Regions from separate parts of the Homo sapiens genome. Here all the other regions are linked to region 2. The links come from fine-mapping of genetic effects on gene expression. A gene starts in region 2. Each other region holds a variant in brackets. All regions are shown on one strand. Distances are between the middles of the regions. Region 1 overlaps MAD1L1 (mitotic arrest deficient 1 like 1). Region 2 holds the start of TMEM184A (transmembrane protein 184A). Region 3 overlaps MICALL2 (MICAL like 2).

Evidence for each region. PIP is the estimated chance that this variant, and not a neighbour inherited with it, causes the effect.
Region 1: its variant is fine-mapped to the expression of TMEM184A in transverse colon (GTEx, PIP above 0.99).
Region 3: its variant is fine-mapped to the expression of TMEM184A in pancreas (GTEx, PIP above 0.99).

Annotation. Positions count from the first base shown.
Region 1 is chr7:1,889,881-1,898,052 of GRCh38, forward strand. All of the region lies in intron 18 of MAD1L1 (mitotic arrest deficient 1 like 1), which reads right to left. Among named protein-coding and RNA genes, the nearest start is that of MIR4655, 50 kb to the left of the region's middle. RefSeq lists enhancers at 494-994, 995-1,495. The variant G/A (reference allele first, on the strand shown) is at 4,090.
Region 2 is chr7:1,551,752-1,559,923 of GRCh38, forward strand. TMEM184A (transmembrane protein 184A) reads right to left here and starts at 4,454. Exons shown (of 9, transcript NM_001097620.2): 1 at 4,363-4,454; 2 at 3,515-3,733. The coding sequence starts at 3,733. RefSeq lists silencers at 2,980-3,162, 4,530-4,599, 4,640-4,729 and enhancers at 3,272-4,072, 3,642-3,936, 4,073-4,872, 8,097-8,172.
Region 3 is chr7:1,428,570-1,436,709 of GRCh38, forward strand. MICALL2 (MICAL like 2) reads right to left here. Exons shown (of 17, transcript NM_182924.4): 16 at 6,532-6,578; 17 at 5,790-6,103. The coding sequence ends at 6,027. Among named protein-coding and RNA genes, the nearest start is that of MICALL2, 27 kb to the right of the region's middle. RefSeq lists an enhancer at 1-529. The variant C/A (reference allele first, on the strand shown) is at 4,590.

The DNA.
Region 1 (8,172 bases), 340 kb after region 2:
AGAGCTGGGGGGCCTGCTGCCACAGCTCGTCAGGGGCCACAGCAACAGCTGGGCTCTGGGCCCCAGGCTGGTGGTGCCCTGAAGGCTGCCCACCCACAGGGCTGTGAAGGCAGCTGGGAGGTGGAGCTGCCTCCACTCTCAAGACACACAGGACCTGGGCCTTCCTGGCCCCTCTCTATGGCAAGAATGGGGAATCATCTCCTGGGAGGGGCATGTATCCGTGGGAGGGTCTCACTCCTGGACCACACGCTCTGTCTGGTGTGGGTATGGTGGGCTCGGATCCCCGGGAGGGTCTCACCCCAGGACCACGTGTTCTGGTGTGGGTACTGTTGGTACGTCCCTGACAAGTCTCATATTGAAATGGGATCCCCAATGTTGGAAGTGTGGCCTATGGGGAGGAGGTGTCTGCGTCATGGGGTCACAGGCCTCACCCACAGCCTGGTACTGCCTTTGAGGGAATTAGTGAGGTCTCTCTCTGTTTCCATGAGAGCTGGTTGTTAGAAGGAGCCTGGCACCCCACCCCTTTGGCCTCCTGCCATGTGATCTCTGCCCAAGTGGGCGGTTCCTCTTCATCTCCCGCCATGAGTGGACGCAGCCTGAGACCCTCACCAGGTGCACACGTGCCCACTTTTGAACTTAGCAGCCACCAGAATTGTGAGCCAAATACACTCCTTTTTCTCTAGAAACCACCCAGTCTCAGATATTCCTTTATAGCAACATAACAGGCAAAGACACCAGGCAAGCCCATCCTGCCAGTTTCCACGGAGGCCCAGGCTGTGCCGGCCACTACAGGTATGTCGGGGAGAGGAGGAGGGAGCCCCGAAACCAAGGCCACCTGTGCTGTTTTATCAGCTCTCCATCGCTCAGCACCTGAGAAGGGGTGCTCACGGGCCCCACTTTGTCCTTGGGGAGCTGAGGCCAGAAGTCATTTCCCAGGGCCAACCTGCTGTGGTAGAGGAGTCTGGACCCTGTCTGACGCCCATGTTCTCATTTTTCCTGGGGAGGTGCACAGCCTTCCTGTCTGGGATTTCCACAGTCCATGCAACAGTGAGAATGCGGGACCCCAGCAAGATCAGACAGACGCCAGCAGCGGGCTCTGTGCGGGACCTCGGCGGGATCAGACAGACGCCAGAAAGCGGGCTCTGCGCCACCTCCCCTTCCCCTGCTGAGGTCCGGCAGGGGCAGCAAGGATGGGCAGAGGGGAAAAAAGGGTGCACAGAAGCGACACCCCGGGCCAGCACAAGGACGAGGGGTGCGGGGCTATTTCTTCTTCCCAGGAAGGCTGCTATACAAAAACATTTTTCTATAGCTGTAGGATGTGCTTGTGCTTTAAGCTAAGTGTTATACAAAACAAATTTTAATAGGCTGGGTGCGGTGGCTCACGCCTGTAATCCCAGCACTTTAGGAGGCCGAGGAGGGAGGATCACCAGGTCAGGAGATTGAGACCATCCTGGCCAACATGGTGAAACCCCGTCTCTACTAAAAGTACAAAAAAATTAGCTGGGTGTGGTGGCGCACCCCTGTAATGCCAGGTACTCAGGAGGCTGAGGGAGGAGAATCGCTTGAACCAGGGAGGCAGAGGTTGCAGTGAGCCGAAATCGCGCCACTGCACTCCAGCCTGGTGACAGAACAAGACTCTGTCTCAAATAAATAAATAAAATTAAAAAGTTTATAAACTCAAAAAGTTACAACAAACTTTATTCTTATTATTATTAGAGATGGGATCTCACTCTGTCACCCAGGCTAGAGTGCGGTGGCGCGATCATAGTTTTCACCGCAGCCTCTAACTCCTGGGGCTCAAGTAATTCTCCCGCCTCAGCCTCTGGAGTAGCTGGGACGATAAGCAGGCGCCACCACGCCTGGCTAAGTTTTAAATATTTTGTAGACACAGGGTCTTGCTATGTTGCCAAGGCTGGTTTTGAACTCCTGGGCTCAAGCGATCCCCCCACTTCAGCCTCCCCAAATGTTAGGATTATAGGCACAGGCCACTGTGCCCAGCCATTCATTTATTATTGAAGAAAAGAACAGTATTTTTAATAGTTGAGTGTAGCCTAAGTGGTACGGCATTTATAGTCTCCAGTTGTGCACACTCATGTCCTAGGCCTTCACACTCACTCACCCTCATTCACCAGCTCGCCCAGAGCACCCGCCAGCCCTGCGAGCTCCGTTCACGGTGAGCACCCTACGCAGGTGCACCGTCTTCCACCCTTCATACATCATGTTTATGGCACCTTTTCCATATTTAAACACGTACAGACACGCAGATGCTTAGCACTGCGCCACGGTGGTCTACTGCATTCAGCACAGTCACGCACTGCACACTTTTGCAGCTTGGCAGCAGCCGGCTAAACCATGCGGCCCAAGGGTGCGGGAGGCTGCACGGCCCAGGCTCGTACAAGTCATTCTAGGAAGTTCCCGCAAAGACAACACTGCCCACCAGCACGTTCCTCAGCATGCATCCCTGTCATCTGGCAAAGCGAGACCGTACTAGACTTACACATATACACACAGGTGAGTGCTGAGTATCCCTTATTGGAAACGCTTGGGACCAAGTGTCTGGGATTTCCAGATTTTCAGGTTGTCAGAATATCTGTATTACGTGCTTACTGGTTGAGTAAGCATCTCATGCAAATATTCATCCCTAATCTGAAAATCTGGTATCGGAAACGCTCCATTAAGCATTTCCTTTGAGTGACAGACCCACAATAAAAAAAGCTGTGGATTTTGGAACATTCCCGACTTCAGGTTTTCGAATCGGGGAGGCTGGACCTGTATACCTTTCCCCCTCATCCATATGACAAACCCGGTAGGTCGACATCGCCACATGTTTGTGCAGTTCCGGAATCTGTGCCGTCCACGCCTCTGGCCCTGACGCCCACCCTGCAGGCCTCTGAGCCGGGGAAGGCCCTGGACAGCAAGGAATGAGGAGCCTGCTGGAACCAGTGTGTCTCCCAGATCCCAGAAGCTCACGGTTTTGCCCCAAACTGCATTTGCTCTGTGTCCCCGGCCTGGTCACTCCACTTCTTCTTACCACTGATTTTCTCCCTCTCGTAACAGAAGGCTTCCTTCCCTGGGTTTTGAGAAGAGGGGAAAAGGGAGGTGGGGAAAATTCCGTGAGAACCACTGGGAGGAGTGCAGCCGGGATGGAGAGACCAGGAGCTGAGCCTCCCCGCTCCAGGCCCAGGCAGAGTATGGCCTTCCCAGGAAGCTCTAGGGACTCTGGAATCTCTATCCCCTCTCAGGAGGGAGAGGAGCAGAGGCAGCAGGTTCCCGCTGGGAAGAGCTGGAGCTGAGATTTGCCTGCCTTTCCCCCAAACGGCAGCCCAGGCAGCCAGCTCCCTCCACCCACGCGGCAACAAGAGGTTTGGTCCCGGCTGGGATGGGAAGTCCTGGCTGGGATGGGAAGTCCTGGCTGGGATGGGAAGCAGAGTGGCGGGGGACTGTGCGGCAAACCCTCAATTATCCCAGCACACATCTGTGGAACCCGCTTGACTGGAAACGGCTTCGGCTATTTCTAACTCTGTCTGCAGCCCCCTTTCTGCCTGAAGAATCATTTGGGGGAAAATCTGATAAAATAAATGACATGGCCAGGAGGCTGGGGTTTGGCGAGATCTTTCAGGAGCACGGGAGCCACGTATGCCAGCCCCCAGGTGGAGTGGGTGGGGCAGGGGGCCTGTCTCCCTGCTCTCCCTGCCCTCCCACACTGGCCTCTGCCCTCCGTGGCCCTATCTCAGGAGGGTAGCTCAGGGAAGACCCTCCTGGGCACACCTAGTGATGCTCAGCCCCCTGAGGATGCCTTTCTGAAGCCAGGAGGCCAGGGTCAGGGCCCCCAGGGAGCACCCAGACCACATTCCTCATGACAGATGGGGAAACTGAGTCTCACAGGAGTGCAGTGGCCTGGCCAAGGCTGCACACCAGGGTCAGGAGCTGCCCGGGACAAGGTGACTCCACAGTGTCTCTTATCTCTCCTCTGGACAGTGGAGACCAGGGCCACCGCTGCATGGCCCCAAGGAGTCAGTGACCATCTGCAGGCAGAGGTGCCAACATGAGCCCTGGCCCTACAGGTTGGCTGTTGTCTGTTCACTGTTT[G/A]TCTCTTCCCTTTTGCTCCACTGAAACCTGTTTTTCTGTCTGTCTGGCAGAGCCCTAGACTGCCCTCTCCATAAGCCAGGCCCTGAGCTGGGGGCGTGGAGCTGCTGCGAACAGTACAAGTGCCTCTCCTGTCACCAAGCTTGGTGTCCTGGATACAAAGGAGGCAGGAATGACAGGTGGATGGGGCAGGACTGATGCTGATCTCCTGGTCAGAGCTCCTGCCAGAAGACTTGGCAGCTCTAGCGCTGTCTTCTTGGAACCCAAGGGGGAGGATTTCTCAGGAGGCCAACGGCCTCACCCAGTGAAGGGCAGCTCGGAGGAGGACTTGGGAAGAGTCGGCTTACAGGGAGCCTTTGAAAGCTCCCTAAATGTTGCAGGCCCTCCAGAAGGTCTGCAGGGACCAGGACACACAGGGCCGGCAGAGCTAGTCACAGCTCTGGGAGAAGCACGGGTGCACCGTGGGCTGGAGCTGAACCAGCCAACAGGGATCCCGGTGCAACATGACCCCTCCCCAGCTCCACAGGTGGCACTTATGAGACTTGCCTCTTGCAGCCTCCGAAGTGAGCCACAGTTACTTCTACTCCACAGGTGAGGAGACTGAAACTTGGGGAGGTGAGGCTGCATGCCCAGTGTCAGCCCTCATGAACATGCTCTAAAGGCCCATATCCAGCAGGCGATCCCTCCACATCAACCAGATGGGGCGCAGGAAGGTCTGGGAGGCCCCAGCCCTCCAAAGAGGGGAGGGGGCGAGCGGGGTGCTAGGCACAGCTGCTAGCAGGGCACATCAGCTGGGCAGGACAGAGTCTGGAGGAGGAGTGGGAGAGGGAGGAGGAAGAGCAGGAGTAGAGGGTGGGGGTTGGGTGAGGCTGGGGGAAAGAGGCTGTGAAAAGAAGCCTAGGGAGAAATGGAGCAAGAAGCATCTTTAAGAACCAGGCACCCAGCAGTGGGGGAGAAACACAGGAGGGGCACACTTAGGCCCCCTGGGGACCCTCAAGGGACAACGAACCCAACAGGATAAAACCTCCGGCAGACTCGCCTGTCAGGAAAAACACAAGGTGGCACGTGTCCTAGGAGGGAAGCCAGCGGAAGAAGGGTCCCACATCTGGGGAACCCAGGAGGGCTTCCTGGAGAAGGTGTCTACAAGCGAGCTGGGCCCAGGTGAAGAGGATGGAGCAGGTGGGCCTTGATGCTGGGGTTCCAGGGAAAACCGCAGACACAAGTTGGCAGCTTCTTCCTGCGGGGACTTCACTGCTCAGAAATGAAACCGATGGACCAAGGTGGGGTCTTGGCAACCATGATGGATGTGCCAGGAACATGGCCCCACTTACTCCTGTGGGTCAGACGTAACTGTACCTGCTTTACAGATGAGGCAGAGGCCCAGCCAGCACCCCCCTGGCAACAGCTGCACTTGGGCACCAGCCCACAAGCTCACCTAGAGTCAGCCCCCTGCCTGGGTTGCCCAGAGCTCCCCATGCCAGGCCCACCCCGCAGCTCTCAGCCCCGCCTGCAAACATCAACTTGTAAAGCCCTTCCATACTTTACTTAATCTCCCTGATCCTGTGAGCTTCAAGCATGAAAACACAGTGCATGTCACACATGGGGAAAGTGGGTAAGCTAAAAGCAACCTCGTTCCCTGACACTGTCCACCTGAGCCAGCCCCCGGAACACGGCCCAGAGCAGGCATGGTGGGTGGCCGGAAGGGTGGGGAGCGGGGCCTCTGCGGGCACCAGGCCTTGCTGGTGGAGCACTGGGCCAGTGGACCGTCTGTCCTTCCGGAGGCGGCTGCCTCAGCTCCATGGCTTCTGACCCAGCACATCCAGCCCTCAGGACCTGCAAAGTCACATTCACACGGGCCTTGGGCCAGGACAGGCCGTGGTCCAGAAGGTCAGGTCAGGCCAGGCCTGCCACTGGAAAGAAGGGACAGCAAGGGCTGGAGGATGGGCAGTGAGGGGGCGGCCTGGGGAGGCGCCAAGGCTCCAGATCACAAGAGTCTAGGAAGGCGGGCAGGATGCCTGGCAAGAGCTGCGGGGCCCAGGCCAGACCCCTGCAGGAACCACGGCTCCTCAGGGCGAGCCCGGCCTCCCGTACGCTGTGTGTCCTTTAGGCCTGGGGCGAGCAGGGCTGGGGAGCTGGCCAGCTCCTGGGCTCTCTGTCCGCCTGCCTCCTCCTCCTGGGGCCCCCTTCCTGCCTCTCCCTGACCTCAGGAGCCTGGGGGCTGAGAGGGCTCCAAGGCGGAAAGGAGGGCAGGGGTTCCTGCCCAGGCCATGGGGGCTGAAAGTCCGGCCACTGGCAAGCTGAGGCCAGCCCAAGCCTTCTGGTCTCAACATCCTGCCATGGCTGGGATCCTGGGCGGGCGGATGAGGGCCGGGGGAGCTGAGATGCTGGCTCGAGCAGGAAGAGCGGCAGGGCCCATGCTCGAGGGTATGACGGGGATGGACCTGGTGTCCAGCAAACCTGAGGACATTGGGCAGGGCTGCGCTTCAGAAGCCCATGCAGGGCTTACAGTGGTCAAGATGCTACTTGCTGACGGTGTTTTTAAAAAGTGACACAGGAGCACACACAATGGAACCCCAGGATCCCGAGTTCCCAGGTGTAAATGAACATGCCTAGGCATGTGCCTACGTATGAAACACCGAAAGGAAACACGGCGAAGCAGGACAGCGGCCACCTTTCGCGGGAAGATGACGAGTGGCTTGCTTCCCTCTTTTGGATTTTCGACACTCTCAACAGAAAACACTGTGGAGGGTGCCCCAAGGTTCCGCTGCAGTTAGTCTTCCTAAGATTCGCTTCAACTACAGCACACGCAGGGATCCGGGGAAAACGCTGCCTCTTAATTTGTAAATGTTGATGTAACGAGTGATATGTTAAGTGATAACTGTTCATGGTACACCTTTATTAATACCTAATCATTTTAGAAACCTATGGAATTCGTATAATGCATTAAACACCTCTGTGAATTATTCAAAGTATACAGAATTATACAAAAGCGAAGAAGTACATTTCTGATAGCTTAAAGACTTGGTGTGTTTTTATTATTCAAAGGTTTGAGAGTTTCAAGAGTGTAGAAATGGATGACTGTGATCTGAGAAGCAGGAAATCCACAAGGAACGCAGAGCAAGCCCGGCACGGTGCCCCCGTGCAGCGCAGGCTGTGAAGACGGGCGGGTTGTGCAGAAGGAGGAGGAAGAGCCGGGCTAAGGCTGAATCAGACAGGCAGCGGCTCACCGCTGTGAGACGCTGACGGACATGCGTAGGCCGCACTGGGTACAGCTTTTATACAAATCAAAGTTGGTTCTCGGTTCCATAAAGACACGCAGAGGCTGCAGACTGCAGGCAGTTTAGACGCCCGTTCCAGACCACAGCAGTCCCAGGTGGGGCCCGTCTCTGCCTGTCCTCATCTCCCACAGCCACCGCCCCCTCCACCCTTCCTGAAGCAGCCACATGCCAAGACGGGGCCACGAGGTCATGCCGGGGCCACAATGCCACACCAGGCCGACGGCACCATCCTCACAAACCGGAGGTTAGCTCACCGGGGCAGTGATGAACAAGCCCCTGTTGCCCTGGGTCTCCAGCTGCTGGAGGTCCAAGTGGGGCCACCTCCACCCTGAGGGTCAACACATAACACCCCAATTTCTGCTGTTGGACCCCGCTCGCCCGAGGACTCTTCATGTCCACAACGGTGGACCCAGTCTGGCTTCACCAGCAAACCAGAAGAGCGCCTGCTGGCTCGCAGGACGCGAGTGTAGAGATGCGGCTGGCTCTCCTTTCCTCTTCTAGTCTGTCTACCTTGCCCTGTGCTGGCTTCTGGGACTGCGCTGTCCCACTGCGCAGCCTGGCATCTTGGAAGGCGTCCCCTGCCCCGGCCCCACACGGACTTCAGTCCTCCCCAGGCACCACTGCCTCTGGACACACTGACACACACGCCTACGGCCGCAGCCCTCATGGAACGAAGCCCAAGTTGCGACAGACAGAGGCTGAGAAAGTCAGGGGGACAGCCTAGGGTCTTCTGCACCCAGGAGGTCCAGGGCTGCAAAGCCACATAGGGTTGGCCCAAGGCTGAGAAGCCTCAGGGGGTGACGAGGAC
Region 2 (8,172 bases):
CATGGTGAAACACAGTCTCTACTAAATACACAAAAATTAGCCAGGCATGGTGGCGCGCGCCTGTAATCCCAGCTACTAGAGAGGCTGAGGCAGGAGAATCGCTTGAGCCTGGGAGGTGGAGGTTGCGGTGAACCAAGATTGCGCCACTGCACTCCAGCCTGGGCGACAGAGCGAGACCCTTTCTCAAAAAAAAAAAAATATTTTTTTGAGAAACATGGTCTCGCTCTCTTGCCCAGGTTTTTTTTGAGACAGGGTCTCGCTCTGTCGCCCAGACTGGAGTGCAGTGGTACAATCATGGCTCACTGCAGCCTTGAACTCCCGGGCTCGAGTGATCTGCCTACCTCAGCCTGCTGAGTATTGGGACTACAGGTGTGCACCACCTTGCCTGGCTAATTTTTGTATTTTTTGTACAGACAGGGTCTCACTGTGTTGCCCAGGCTGGTCTCAAAGTCCTAGGCTCAAGGGATCCTCCTGCCTCCGTCTCCCAAAGTGCTGGGACTATAGTCATGAGCCACTGCACCTGGCCTAAAATTTATTTTTTAAATTGGCAAATCAAAATTGTATGCATTTACAGTGTGCAGCGCGATGTCTGATATGTGTGTTCGTGGGGAATGGCTGAGTCAAACCCATTAACGTCTCCATTATCTCCCATACTTAGCATTTCTTTGCGGGGAGGACATGTAAAATGTACTCTCTTGGCAATTTTCAAGCATAGAATACATTGTTATTTATAACAGTCACCATGTTGTACAATAGGTTTTTTTTTTTTTTTTTTCTGAATAAGTTCCTTGGGCATGAGTGAGGGTCCTGTTTGTTCTTAGCCTGGGAATGGGAACGCTCACTCATTCCTTCATTCAGCAGGCGTTTCTAGAGCCCAGCTAAGTGTCCAACCCGGGGGACGGAGAGGGGACACGTCCCGGTCCTGGGCTGGGCAGACTCTCAGAAGGCACATTGGCTTTTGCTGTGGGGGCATCCAAAGGATGTGCACCCTTTGATTCCTAAGAATTTGTCCCTCCCTAGGGGCCAGGCACGGTGGCCCACGCCTGTAATCTTAGCACTTTGGGAGGCCAAGGTGGGCGGATTACCTGAGCTCAGGAGTTCGAGACCGGCCTGGTCAACAGGGCGAACTCCATCTCTACTAAAAAATACAAAAATTAGCCAGGCGTGGTGGCGGGCGCCTGCAGTCCCAGCTACTCGGGAGGCTGAGGTGGGAGGATGGCTTAAATCCGGGAAGCGGAGGCTGCAGTGAGCACTGATTGTGCCACCGGACTGCAGCCTGGGTCACAGAGTGAGATCCTGCCTAAAAAAAAAGAAAGCCTGGGAAAAAGTATGGGTGATTATAGTAGTGTTTGCCTTTAAACCTTTCTAGATTTTCCACGTTTTTATTTTTTTTAATTTTTAATTATTATTTTTTTTATTGAGACGGAGTCTTGCTCTGTTGCCCAGGCTGGGGTGCAGTGGCGCAATCTCAACTCACTGCAACCTCCGCCTCCCGGGTTCAAGTGATTCTCCTGCCTCAGCCTCCTGAGTAGCTGGGATTATAGGCGCGCACCACCATGCCCGGCTAATTTTTGTATTTTTAGTAGAGACAGAGTTTCCCCATGTTGGCCAGGCTGGTCTCAAACTCTTGACCTCGGGTGATCCACCCGCCTTGGCCTCCCACAATGCTGGGATTACAGGTGTGAGACACCACGCCTGACCGATTTTCCATGTTTTCTGTGAGGATACAACTCAACTACAGGGTCTTTGAGACAGGGTCAGCCGAGCCTGGGAGCTGGGCGCACAGGGGCTCCTGGGGAAGGCCTTCTGGAGGAGGTGCATGCGTGGCGGTGGGCGAGCAGAGGCTACGTGCACCTGGCCGCTTGGGGTGCAGCTCAGGGAGTTGGGGGAGGTTGGAGGCAGGAACAGACTCTTATCAGTCACACGCTCCCCGATGGTCCCTGGGAGGGACGGCATGACCAGCCATCAGGAGACCTCTCCCGGGGCTGGCGCTGCCTGGCTGGGTGACCTTGACAAGCCACTGTCCTCTCCGGCCTCGGTCCTCCCATGTATAAAGTGAGGGGGATCCAGCCACTCTGTGTCCTGCCTGGGACTCCTCACTCAAGGGTGACTCTGGCGGTGGGCTCAGGGGTGGGACAGGGCCTGAACTCCAGCCCAAGGGGTCTCCATGAGCCCTGTCTTGACTGCGAGGCCCCATGAAGCTAAAGCCACACTACAGCCGCGCACACACAGCCGGTTCCCAGGATTACAGCGGAAAGACGGCCTCCTCCGGGAAGCCCTCTCTGATGGCCTTACAGGAAGGGCCTGCCTCGGCACTGCCTCCGCGGCTCTGCACACTCCAGGCCACACTCATACACGTCTACCGTGGGTTCTGGTTATCTGTTCACAGCTCACTGCAACCTTGAACTGGGCTCAAGCGATCCTCCCATCTCAGCCTCCCAAGTAGCTGGGACTAACAGTGCAGGCCCCCATGCCCGGCTAATAAGCAGTTAATAAACTGTCACTGAGATGCTCCCTCGGAGACTTGTGGCCACCGGTGTCCCTGCCTGCCAGTCTCCTGATGGCCCCCTGCCCCAGCTCACCTACAGATCCATTCCCTACACCAGTGCCCCGTGCACCCGGGAAGCAGCTCTGCCCTCAGCCCAGCCCTCCACAGCCTTCCTGGGCTCCCAGCACCCCCTGAAAGCCACCTCACCGCACTGGGGTCAAGGGCTCTGGACAAATCCCTGCAGCCGTGTGGCCCTCGCGGGCCTACACACGCACTCCCACCCCACCCCTGCGCACACCGCCCTGGCCTCTCTGTGTATCTGAGTCTCTCAGGAGGGTCCTGTCCCTGACTCCCTGCCCTCTCTGCCCAGCCCCTGCCCTCGGGCACCACTTCCTCCTTGCCCCTGCCTGGCCCTTCCTTGCCACAGCGCCTGGCCGCTTCTCTACCTGGGGGCTGTTCTGTTCCCACCTGGGGACTGCTCCGGGTCGGGGGCTGTGTGTGGCTTCGGGCTTGGGGAAGTTGCTTCTCGCCCATCTCCTGCACAGGAGTCCCGGTCCCTCTAACAAGCTGTGACCTTTGCTCCCCAGCTCCCTACAGAGCAAAGTCCAACCCCCTGCCAACCTCCCACCAGCCTTCTCCAGGGTGTCACGCCTCTGGAAGGAGAAGGCCCCTTCCCCTTTCCAGCTATGTGAGCCTGGGAAAGACCTCTGGTCTCTCTGAGACTCAGTCTTCTTGTCTGTGAAATGGGACCACACTGCAGACCTCAGTGAGCCGAGTGACGAGCCTGTGAAATAGCCAGGGGTGCCCGGTGGGCGCTCTGCCCTCAGCCTGGCAGAGATCTCCCCATTTTCAGGCCCAGCTCCCACATGCCACATCCTGGGGAAGCTCATCCCCTCCCCCGTGCCCTGGCCGATCCCACTTCTGACAGCGTCTATAGCAGCGGCACCCAGGGGGACCGGGCTGAGCCACGGCCACGTCCTGTGGAGACCAAGGTCCTGAAGGAGGCTCGGGGGCGGAAGGGCTTACCTGGTGGCAGGTGAGCACCAGGGCAGTCCACACGAAGATCCCCGAGACGCCTCGGGCCAGTGCGGAGGTGAGGAAGAGCCAGGGGGCCCCCTGGGAGCTGTTCCCCATGTGGTCCATCTGCGGCCCAGCTGGCACAGCCGGTGGGGGGCTGGGCTGCGGCCAGTTCGCTGACACCAGGGGGACGCCGGCTGTCTCCAGGATCCCTGAGACATTACTCATCTGCAGAGGGAGGGAGGACACACACCGGGAGGAGTGAGGGCAAAGGTACTGGCTCCCGGCAGCAGGAAGCAGCGGGGGAGGGAGGAGACAGTGAGACGGGAGCTGAGGCTGAGCCACCCACCAGGCCGCACCCCCCACACGGACACCAGCGCCAGGCCCGGCTCCCTCCCTGCTCCGAGCTCAGCCATCGAAGCTCACCCATCAACCACCTGCGACCTGAGGGTCCCACCTCAATTCCCCCTTGTAAAACCAGCTTCCAACTCCGAGTCTCAGGCTTGCAGGGAGCCTGCTTCTTAGGGGACAAAGACCGTCTTCCAGTGGGGCAGAAGAGGGGGAACCCCTGCCGCCCTGCCTGCCCGGGAGGGCTGGGGAGCGGGCGCAGACCAGCACTGCCTGCCCCGGCAGGAGGGGGTGTGCAGCCACCCTCATGGGAGGAGCCGGCCCTCACTGGCTCTGGGACCTGTCCACCCACCTGGGAGCCCGGCTTTGCTGGGGTTCTTGGCAGCCCTGGGTGCCTGTTCCATCTCCCACTAACCTGCTGGGGCCCTGAGTCCACCCTCTCCCACACTCGCAGCCCAGTCCAGCCTCCTCCTCTCCCTCTGGTCTGCGGTCACAGGGCCCAGCTCTACCTTTGCTGGCAGGAAGCACCTGGCCCAGTCCAGGGAGGCCTGGCCTCCAGGGAAGCCTAGCTGGTCATTCTCATGGCCACGTGGCCCCAACTGGAGGCCCCACTGTGGGTGCGGCAAGGCCAGGATCTGAAGGGCTGTGCCAGGCTGGGGCGGGGCGGCCAGTGCCTCACGTCCCCAGTGGCCCACCTGGGCCCCAGGCTGCAGGCCCGTCCCCTCCTGTCCCCTCCCACGGCTGACACCCTATCCTCCCGGTTGTTTGCTGGGTGGCAGCTGGCTCCCAGGAACCTGCTGGCCGCCTGGCGCCCTCACCTGCCTATGCCAGACGGCCAGGCAGCTGCCACCTGGTGGGGACACGTGGGAGAGGTCTGCGGCAGGCCAAGGAGGGCCGGGCTGCAGGAGGAGGGGTGGAGAGCTAATGGTACAGGGTTTCTCTGGGGGGTGACAGGAGTCCTGAAATGAGGTAGAGGCGGCAGGCACACAGCACTGTGGATATACTTACCGCCACCGAATCGTTCACTTAAACCTGGGTAAATTGATGTTATGTGAATTTCATCTGAATTAAAAAAAAAATCCACGCCCCAAGAGATGAGTTGAAAACATTTGTTTTCTGGGCCGGGCGTGGTGGCTCACGCCTGTCATCCCCACACTTTGGGAGGCCAAGGTGGGTGGATCACTTGAGGTCAGGAGTTCGAGACCAGCCTGGCCAACATGGTGAAACGCCGTCTCTACGAAATACGCAAAAATTAGCTAGGTGTGGCAGCGTGCACCTGTAATTCCAGATACTCAAGAGGCTGAGACAGGAGAATCGCTTGAACTCAGAAGGCGGAGGTTGCAGTAAGCTGAGATCACACCACTGCACTCCAGCCTGGGGACAGAGGGAGACTCTGTGTCCAAAAAAAAAAAAAAAAAAAAAAGGAAATATTTCTGGTTTTTGTGGATCAAGGCAGGAGAGGGGGAGTGACAGCCCAGTCCCTGGACCCTTTGGGGTCTGGCAAGGGGTTGCGGGGCCCTGAGGGTCCCTGTCACCCCCATGCAGAGGCCCCTGTGGAGAAAAAACTCACTCACCCCGGCTCCTGGGAGAGGGATGTGGGCCCTCAGCCCACCTCTTGTCCTGTTCTGGTTACGCTTGGGCTCATGCCGCTGGGGCCACCATTACCAAGTCCCGCTCCATGCCCGCAACGGATCCACACACTCCTTGTCCTTCATATCTCCTACCCTCCCACAGCCCTGAGCAACAGGGCTCAAGGGGTTGAGGCTGGAATGACTGGAGCCACTGTTCCCCTTTTATTTTTAATTAATTTATTTTTTGAGACGGAGCCTCGCTCTGTCGCCAGGCTGGAGTACAATGGCGCGATCTCGGCTCACTGCAACCTCCGCCTCCTGGGTTCAAGTGATTCTCCTGCCTCAGCCTCCCGAGTAGCTGGGATTACAGGCGCCCACCACCACACCTAGCTAATTTTTGTATTTTTAGTAAAGACGGGGTTTCACCACGTTGGCCAGGCTGGGCTTGAACTCCTGACCTCAGGTGATCTGCCCGCCTCAGCCTCCCAAAGTGCTGGGATTACAGGTTTGAGCCACCACGTCCGGCCTGTTCCCCTTTTAGAGATGGGAACGAGAGGCGCATCAACGCGTCCAGCATCCTTGAGGGGTCCGTGAGGGGCCCGGGCTGAGGCCCATCCTTCCCTGGGACACCCTGCCTGCTTTTCCCAACTCCTCCACTGACACTGTCCCTCCAGGGAGGCTCCCAGGTGGGGAACAAGCTCAGGAAGTCGTGCCCAGCTCTCAGGCCCGCCTTGCCTAACCTCCCCATCAGCGCCCACCCGGGCCCGGGCCCAGAGCCACAGCATGCACACCCTGGCTGGGCCCTCCTGGAGCCTGCCTGCTCCCCAGGCAGGGACCTTCTGGACCAACCGACCCTGCTCCCGGGTGACTCTGTCCTGCAGCCTCAGGCGTCACCTCTGGAGAGACCATCCCCGCTGTCCCATCACCCTCCTCACTGTGTGTGTGACTCCCTGTCCACCTGTCTGTGTTTGCTGCTGGTCCTCCCTCTGCAGGAGCTGCCAGAGCCTAGAGCTGTGCCCTGTCCATGCTCGGGGCACAGGGCTTGCGGGGTGGGGGCTGTCCTGCTGAGGCGGTGACCCTGTGGGCTAAGGTCTCCCTTTGGCCAGGCAGGGGTGCTGGAAGGCGGTCCCCAACTTCCATCCAGCTGCATTCCCACTGCAGCCACAGGTACTCCTGCCGGCCTCCCACCCGGCCTGCAGAGCCCCAGGCAGTCGGCTCAGCGCGTGTGGATGTCGCCCTCTGGCTGTGTCGGGATCACCGTCACGGACAACTATGAAGTGACGATGGCTGGGGGCCCGTTTGAAGGGTGAAGACTTTGGTGCCTGGGCATGCGCAGAGCTGGAAGGGACCGGGAATCCCCTCATCCAACTCGCTCATGCTACAGGCAGGGAAACTGAGGCCCCAGCCCCTGCTTGATTTGCGTCCAGCCCCCAGCACAGGATGAAGCCTCGGGCCCCTCCCTGGGCTGACGGTGGGAATGGCTGTGCAGACAGCAGGAGGCACTGTGGCTAGATGTCAGCAGGACCGTTTTGGCTGGAGCCAGCAGAGCCAGGCTTCTGGGAGGGCTCTGGCTTCGGGCAGGCTCAGGGCTTGGGCCCCGGACACAGACTGAGGGACCTCCAAAGCTCTGTCTTCCGCCAGAGGCAGATCCTCTGTGGAAAAAGGTGGGGTTTTCTCACAGGGCCAGCTGGGCACTGGACAGGGAGGCCTGCTGATCTCCTCAGCCCACAGCTGTCCCGGCTGAGCCAGATGCGCCAGCTCGGGAACCGTGGACCAAGTGTACTGGTCTGGGGATGTCAGGAGCAGGGCCTGGTCCCCAGGGAGGGGCAGTCGGGAGGTTGACCGCTCTGCCACCTGCTCACAGGGCTCGCCGGCTGATCGAGGCCTCACCCGGTGCTGGTGTCACAGCCTCTGCGCCCGGTCACAGGAGGCGGCAGGGCCGGCTGGGCCTGATTTTTCTGGCGGGGGCGGGACACTGACCAAGCCCATTGCAGGACAGACCTGTCTGCCCAGATCCAGGCGACGGGGCCCTCTGACCATTGTTCACTGCGTCCAGGTGCCCAGAGCTGTGGGGAGGCTGAGAAGCCGCCCAGCCAGTCCCACACCCTGGCCCTGGCACAGCCACCTCCTCCTGCTCTCATGAGAAACCCGGCTGAGGGCCCATGAGCTGTTGCCTGGTTCCAGGCCGGCTGCCCTGCTAGTGCCCACCCCGACCCCCTGCCTGCCCGTCTCTCTGCAGATGCGGACAGGCATGGTGTACCCCCCTGCCTGCCTCCTTCACTGCTGGGTGGAACTCGGGGCGCCCAGGAGCCGCCTCCTCAGGGCTGGCTCATTTGATGTCCCAGGCTGAGCTGCACACTAGGGGGATGAGGTGACCGGTGGGCACCCATCTCAGACACCCGGCTTCCCAGGTCCCGCGGCCCTCCCCTGGGGGCCCTGGCCAGCAGTTCACCAAGGCAGCAGCCCCGGGTGTGAGCAGGGGGTGACAGGGATGGGGCTCCACATCCTCCCGGCTCTGCTTCTGGGATTCCCCCGGCTCCTGTCCACGGGCACGGCCTCCTGAGAGCCGCGTGGGGCGGGCAGGCAGCATGGCCTCCTGGTGACCCACATGCCCCCTCCTCACTGGGGCCGGGGAGCAGCCCCCACAGCCAGGAGGAGCAGGCCCTGGACCACATGCCACAAGCTGGGGCCTGGCTCTGGCTGTGTGAGGTGTCTGTGACCTCAGGCAGAGCCTATGCCAGCCTGGGC
Region 3 (8,140 bases), 120 kb before region 2:
TGGATTATATCCTAACGTGCTTTATAAAGTGTCAGGCCGGCTGCCGACGAAGGGGTGTGTGTGATTATCTTTATTAATAATCCGGTGGGCTGGTGTTTTTTCTATCCGTCTTCATCAGTGTTTCCAGCCCACCTGGGAGACCTCGTTAGCGCAGAATCCAAAACCGTGACCTGAGACGGCAGGGCTGTGATCGTCACGGCAGGCCGGCCCGGGGGGAAACACCTAGGTGGACCGACAGACAGACAGATGGGGTGTCAGGACCCATCACAGCCAGCCAGACAAAGGCCTCTGCCGGGAGGGTCCCCGGGGAGCAGGGCCCTGGGAGTCCAAGCTCCAGACCAGTAGGAGCCAGGGCAGCTTCAGGGTGAGGGAGGTTCACCCAGCAGGAGGCCCGCAGACAGGAGCAGGGCCCGGACGTATGATCTGGCTGTGCCCCTCCTGGCGGGGTCTGCAGGGCCGAGGGGGCCACCCAGAGCTCATGTCCACCTCCCACCTGATGCCCCAGCACCCGGGACCCCAGAATTCCCTGAGCGCACACCCTGAAACCCCCTTCGAGTCCTCCTGAGGCCTTCCCAGCCCTGGCGTGGAGGCTCCCAGGCCCGAGGTGGGAGGCTCCTCCCTCCCAAAGCTAAACAGGGCTTCCGGGGAGGAGAAGTGGGGGGAGCTTCGGGCTCAACTCTCTCCCGGGCCCCACAAAGGTGAGGGTGGGCCTGGCAGGGAATGGCCGCTGGGGAGCAAGCCTGCATGGCAGCCGTCAGCCTCCTGCGTCTCAGGCTCCAGAGGAGACCCCTTCAGCCCCCCTGCGTCTTGGGCTCCAGAGGAGGCCCCTTCTCCATGATTCACCCGAGAGAAGCAAGGCATGGCTGTCCCTGGGGTCCCCGTGAGGCCTTGGAAGGACGTGGAGGGGCAGGAAGAAGCCAGAAGACACAGGAAAAGCTCCTCCTTCCCAGACACCCTCACAGCGGCCGCTCGAGGTTGGAAGGAGGCCAGGCTGCAGAGGTGCAGGCCACAGACATTTCTACCTGGGGGTAACTGTGGGCTTCCCAGAGCCCCCCCACCCAGGGAGCCCCCCAACTGGGGCCGTGCAGCAGAGCCACATGGGGGGCCCTCACTGGGAGGAGTCTGAGCTCTGCTCCCTGCCTCCTCCCAGATGGAGGCCAAGGCACAAGAACCAGGCCCTGCCCACTCCTGCCATGGGGCCCTGGGCACTCCGTGACTCAGTTTCCCCTCCTGTCACAGGGACAGGGTGTTGCCCACGACTCCCTAGTTTCTGTGAGGGGCTTCATGGCACAGGGCGTGGCCATGCCCCCATCGGAGACCCCTCCAACTCTTGCCCCAGCCAGGAGCAGCCCCTCTGTCCCCACCCCAAGCTGGGCCCACCTTGGCAGGCTCAGGGACTGGGAAGGTCCCTCCCCTCTCTGGCCTCAACACCCTCCTCTGAAAACGGGTCTGGGGGTAGCTGAGGTGCTGTGGGAAGGGCCAAGCCAGTTCCTGTGCATCGGGGCGGGGCTGGAGCAGGAGGCCTGGGCAGGGCAGATGGGGCGGCAGGGGTGAGGGGGCCCCACCATGGAAGCGGCTGAGGTCTGCTCTGCATGTCAATTCCCCGCTCCCTGCGGGGCAGACCAGCTATGACATTCCCAGGCCCCGGCCGGGACCCGCAGCTTACACAGATCAGGGTGGGGGGCGGTCTTTGGGCCCGGCCGGGCTGTGCTCATCACTCGGGGCCAGGGCCAGGCTCCCTCTCTGGGCCCCAGGGAACAGGGCAGCCCCCCGTTGTGGGATGCCCGGAAAATCCCCCAAGAGACGTTGTGCTCTCTTCCCGAGTCCCTCCCTGTCCCTCCCCTGCTCAGCCCAAGTCTGGGTAGGGCAGGAGGTGCCTGGTGTGTGCCCGCTGGCAGTGGCTCCACTGCCCACCCCACGAGACCTGATTCAATCCTCCCACCCCGGGCAGGGCAGGGGCAGCCCCGGGGGTCCCACAAGTACGAAACCAGTCAGGCTCAAGCAGGTCTGTCTCCCTGGACCAGTGGACCAGGTAGCAACCCTGGGCCAGGTGCTAGCCCCCTTGACAGGTGAGAAGACTGAGTCCTGGAGTGGCGTTGAGCCCTGGTGTCATTCATTCATTCAACAAATCCTCATCAGGCTCCTGCCGTGTGTCAGGCACTGTTCTAGGCGCTGAGGATGGCGTGGCAGAAAGACGGAGGAGCCGGGACCTCCGGAGGATCCGTCACAGAGAGGAAGCCCAAACAAGCATCTAAACATAGGTGCGTTCCGAGTGTTGGCAATAAACCAGGGTGGCCGTGTGCTCACGCCTGTCATCCCAGCAGTTTGGGAGGCCAAGGCAGGAGGATTGCTTGAGGCCAGGAGTTCAACACCAGCCTGGGCAACATGGCAAAACCGTGTCTCCACAAAAAAAAACTTTAAAAATTAGCCGGGCGTGGTGGCGTGCGCCGGGTGTCCCAGCTACTCGGGAGGCTGAAGTGGGAGGATCACTTGAGCCCAGGAGGTCAAGGCTGCAGGGAGCCGTGATCACGCCACTGCACCCCAGTCTGGGCAACAGAGTGAGACCCTGTCTCTAAAAAGAAAGAAAGAAATCAGGGTGAGGGGCAGGAGCTTCTCCGAAAAGGGCAGTTAAGCAGAGATAGCAGGATGCCAGCTATGTGGAGTGCAGGGGCCCCAGGAGCAGGACCAGCAAATGCAAACGCCCGTGGCCAAGGCCCGGCAGCCGGAGCGGAGGGGGCAAGGGTGACAGAGGTGAGGCTGGAAGAACTCCTGGGAATCAGCCCAAGCCTGCCCTGGCTTCGCAAGGGGTGAACACAAGTCCCCACCAGCTGCCCCCACCCTCCCACAGACCAGTGCCCTGTAATGGCTGGGCTGGCCCCCTGTGCCCGGCCTGGAGGGGCCACTCAAGTCCAAGTCCAAATTCCAAGCATCCCAGTGGAGACTCTGCTTGGTCCAGCCTTGCCTCCCTCCTTGTCCCTCCTGACGCAGCCACACGGGGCCAGTGTCAGCTCCCCACCCCAGAGCTCACCAGAAGGACCACACCGGTCCCTGAGCCCAGAACACTCCTCAATCCAGCCCTTGCTCCCCAGACCTGAGGCTGTAGTATTGAGGCCAGTGCAGATACAGGGGCCGACGGGGATGTGGGTCAGGGAACAGCTCTTCCCCTTCTCTGCGGCCCCACCCACCCCCATATCCATTCAGGAAGACTGGCTGTTCCTAGCCATGTCTGTAGAGAGAAAGCCTCTGATGTGCATGGACTGCCTGCCACGTGCACAGGCACGAGACGCTGGCCCGGAGTCTCTGGCAGGTGTGGGTGACGTCCAGCCAGGCCACTGGGGAACTGCGTGCCTCTGCCCTCCCTGAAAGTTGTGAGGGGTCATCTAGGGTGGGTGGGGCCCGGGCTGAAACTCTTCCACATTGGGGTTGGGGCAGCCTCTGCAGGAGCCGGGCGGCGGCGCAGCCAGCCCCACCTGTGCCCGAGTGGCTGCTCAGGGGTTCCCACGCCCATCCTCACAGCCTCCTGCAGCACAGGCAGCACAGGCATCACAGGGCCTGGCCAACGCCCATGGCCCCAGGGCTGCGTTCCTGCCTGTCTCTCCATGATGGTGTCACCGGGGTCTGCAGGTGCTGGGCCCCTGGTGGACAGCAAGGACATCCCGCAGGGCTGGCTTAGTGCCTGGCAGACCTGACCACTTGTTGCAGGGGCTCTGATCACTGAGCACCAACTGTGTGCCCAGCCTGGAGCGCACCTGGCACCCCAGGGCTGCTTCTGAGGTCCCCAGATGCAGGGGGCTGATGGTGGGGGCGGAAGCTTCCTGGCCCTGCGGTGGGACACCCCCAGGTGTGAGTCCACAGCAGGACCGAGCCCCAGGTGCCCACGCCCCTAACTTGCTGGACAACACTCCCTTCCCGTTCTGGTCTCAAAAATGCTACGCAGCCCCCTGCCCTGGCCCCGCCTCGCTTGCTGTGTGACGTGGGAGAGCCGTAGCCCTCTCCCAGCCTCAGTTTCCCTGTCTGAAAAACGGAGCTATTCCAGGCTCCCGGCTGCCCCTCTCCACTAAGTGGCTCTCTGCCTCCCCCTGGTGGTGAAGAGGCCACACTGCCGCGGGTCAGGCCTTACGACGTGAGCACGGGGCTGAGATCCCAGGGGGACCCACGGGGCTGAGATCCCAGGGGGACCCACAGGCTCAGCTCCGGGACCCGGTCCAGACCGCCCTCCACGGCGTCATGCTCCTAACACAGCAGAGGCCCTGGGGCTTCTGCTCAGAACCACCCCAGGCACCCAGTGCCTGAGGAACGAGGCCACCTCGCTGCACCTGGAAGGTCCCTGCCGGCCCAGGTCCTGACAGAGCCCCTCTCTCTCCATCACCCGCTCCGCCTCACCTGACCCTGACCCCGGCCCCGCCCCAACCTGCCCCACCACACATCTTCAAGCTCCCAAGATCACTGCCTATGCTGTTCCTGCAATAGGGCACACCCTGCCCATCCACCGAGAGACCCCTACTCCTCGACACCCAGGTGAGACCCCCCCCTGCAGAAGTCTCCTGGGGGCTCCAGGGTCCCACTGCTGCCAGCCACTGCCTCCCAGT[C/A]CTCGGAGGGCACAGGGAGTTTCCACCAACACACTCGGTCCCAGTGGCCTGACTCCAAGAGAGGCCTCAGGGCCAGGCAAAGCACGACCCCGTTCCCCACTCATTGCTGTGTGCAGGTGACCCATGGCCTCATCTGGGGGAGCCCCTTTCCCTCCACGGGGGCCCCGAGTGGCTGGCAGAAGCAGGGGGTACAGAGGGAGGCAGCGGGGGTCTCGCTGTCAGCAGAGGGCAAGAGAGCACCTCCGTGCTCCTCCACCCTCATCACTGCCCGAGGCACACCGGTGGGCCCCTCTCATCCTCACACGGCCCCCAGGCAGCCTATGTCACCAAAGGCTCAGAAAGGGCAGTGCCCTAGCCCGAGGCCAAAGAGCTGCCAGGAGCAGAGCTGTGACTGCAGAGGCTGTGCTCCATCCGTGCACCCCAGCCCACCCTCTCTTCCATGCCCCACACCCAGCTCACGTTCCAGGAGTCTTGAGACCCTCAAAGGCACAGTGAAGGCCATGGAATGCCACAGGCCTGCCCAGCACAAGCTCCCCAGGGCCCACGCGCACACGGCAGGGGCTCCAGGCTCTGAACCTGCTCTGGCCCTGCTGGGACCCGTGGGGTCCCGACCCCCCCAGCCAGCAGGTGGAGAACACTGGTGCTTTGCCATGGCTGAGGGTTCCCCAGGACCGCCGCAGAGGCTCCTACAGCAGCTGAAACAGCGCAGCAACAAGCAGCTGAGGCCCGCCCCTCCCCGCACAGATGGGCAAACTGAGGCTTACAGGGACGCTGCACTCCTGACTCAGCGCTCCTCCCACGACATCCACTCTCAGTGGGGGTCAGAAAGGATGGGGCACCCCACATCCCGCCCTGGCCACCAGGAAGTCTCCCTGACCAGGGGCCACTGCTTACAATCCCCCATCCCAGCCCCAGTCCTGGGAGAACGAGGTCACAGCTCTCAGGCCACGGATACATGGCGACCCAGCACCCAAAGTCTCCAGCCTGTACCGACGTCTCCTCTGAGGCTCCCACCAGCCCATCTGTGCCAGGAAGCTATGAAAGGGCCCACCTTCGAGGGCCAGGCCCTGAGAGGGTCGGCTCCTGCCCGAGGCCACAGAGCACGTCCGTCCTGCAGGCAAGAGCTGGGAGGCAGGCGAGACCCCAGGCAGGTGCGGGGCCGCCCAGGGGCACCGAGGCAAACACGGAGGCACGTAGGAGTCCGGGGCCATGTGGTCGGTTTCTTTATTGAGACCACAGACGGTAGCGCAGGTCCCTGCTGTCCACATGCCCCTTGTAGGGACAGGAGGCCCTTCCCGAGTCCAAGTCCGAATGCCGGGTCCGGGCCGAGCCCACGGCCCCGAGTACAAGTCCGGGTTCCGGGTCCGGGCCAAGCCCATGGCCCCGAGTCCAAGTCCGGATGCCAGGTCCGGGCCGAGCCCACGGCCCTACTGGCTACTACTGGGAGGGGCTGCTTTTGCTTTTTGGTGACCAGATCTTGGACAAGCGGAACTTGGACTTCTTCCTCTGGAGGCCTAGGGGACAGGTGGACAGTGAGGCCGTGCTCAACGCCGCAGCCGCACAGCCGTGGCCCACACAAGTCCCCCTGCCAGAAACATCCTTCCCTTCCACTGGCCACAATCCGCCCTGGGCCTCCGAGCCTGCAGGAAGCCCTGTGCCCTCCCACGTGAGAACCTGCCCCGACTGGGTGCCCCGGAGGGCTGGTCCCCACCATGACCACACGGTCACCAGCTGCCCCTGGCTCTCTTAGGGGCGGGAGGGAGCTCTCACCCTCAGGGTGAACCTGCCTGTCCTGTCACCAAGGCTGAGGGGGGGACCCGATACCCGCCCCCCCCCCACCCCCAGCTGGAGGCCCGGTCCACCCAGCCAGCCAGCCCAGCACTCAGCATCCCCGGCCCACCCAGCCAGCCAGCCCAGCCCTCAGCATCCCCGGCCCAGTCACCCAGCTTCTCAATCATGTCCCGCAGCATCTGATCCTCCTCTTGTTCCCTGAAACGGGACCAGATGGCCATGAGCGACAATGGCAATGGCAAGGTGCCCTGGAGGGGCCTCCGGACAGTCTCCAGCAGTGGCACCCCAGCCCTGAGTCCCGCCTGGACCCATGCCACCTGCCCCTTCCTGCTGACAGGCCACACCTTGGAACCCTGCCCCCACCAATGCCAAGTCCCTGCCCTCTTCCAGAGCCAGCCCCTCAACAGTGACATGGTACAGGAGGGCCCTGGGCCGACCACACAGGTGACCTGGGACAGAAGGGCCTGGGCCGACCACACCAGTGACCTGGACAGGAGGACCTGGACAGGAGGGCCTGGGCCGACCACACCGGTGACCTGGGACAGGAGGGCCTGGGCCGACCACACAGGTGATGTGGGACAGGAGGGCCTGGGCCGACCACACCAGTGACCTGGGACAGAAGGGCCTCGGCCGACCCATGCCAAGGCCCCGTCACGCTCCCAGAGGGTCTCATAGAGGTGGACTTCAGGTGCCGACCCAGAATGCCATGTGCTGGACCCCTCATGAGACGAGACAGGAAAGCTGTCGGGGACAGTCACACAGTCCGTGCAGGAGCCAGGAGACGCACGTGGCCTTGGAAGTTCAAGTTAAAAACTAAGACTTTGGCCGGGCACGGTGGCTCACACCTGTAATCCCAGCACTTTGGGAGGCTGAGGCGGGCGGATCACGAGGTCAGATCGAGACCATCCTGGCTAACATGGGGAAACCCCGTCTCTACTAAAAATCTAAAAAAATTAGCCGGGTGTGGTGGCGGGCGCCTGTAGTCCCAGCTACTTGGGAAGCTGAGGCAGGAGAATGGCATGAACCCTGGAGGCAGAGCTTGCAGTGAGCCGAGATTGCGGCCACTGCACTCCAGCCTGGGCGACAGAGCAAGACTCTGTCTCAAAAAAAAAAATACAAACAACAAAACAAAACAAACAAAAAAAACTAAGACTTTACGGCCAGTTACGGTGGCTCATGCCTGTAATTCCAGCACTTTGGGAGGCCAAGGAGGGCAGATCACCTGAGGTCAGGAGTTCAAGACCAGCCTAGCCAACATGGTGAAACCCCGTCTCTACCAAAAATACAAAAAATTAGCCGGGCATGGTGGTGCGAGCTTGCTACTCAGGAGGCTGAGGCAGGAGAATCGCTTGAACTCGGCAGACGGAGGTTGCAGTGAGCCAAGATCGCACCACTACACTCCAGCCTGGGCAACAGGAGGGAAACTTCGTCTCAAAAAAAACAAAAACAAAAAATTAGCCGGGTGTGGTAGTGTGCGCCTGTAATCCCAGCTACTCGAGAAGCTGAGGCAAGAGAATCATTTGAACCTGGAAGGGACAGGTTGCAGTGAGCCAAGATCGCACCACTGCACTCCAGCCTGGTGACAGAGCAAGACTCTGTCTCAAAAAAAAAAAAAAAAAAGACTTCAAAAAGTCCCCGATGGCCACATGTGGCCCCTGGCTACTGTACCAGTCAGCATAGACAATAACCGCCTGGTCAGAAAGTTCTACGGGGCTGGCTGACCCTGAGGGCCGGGAGCATGGACCAGGCGACCTGGCCTG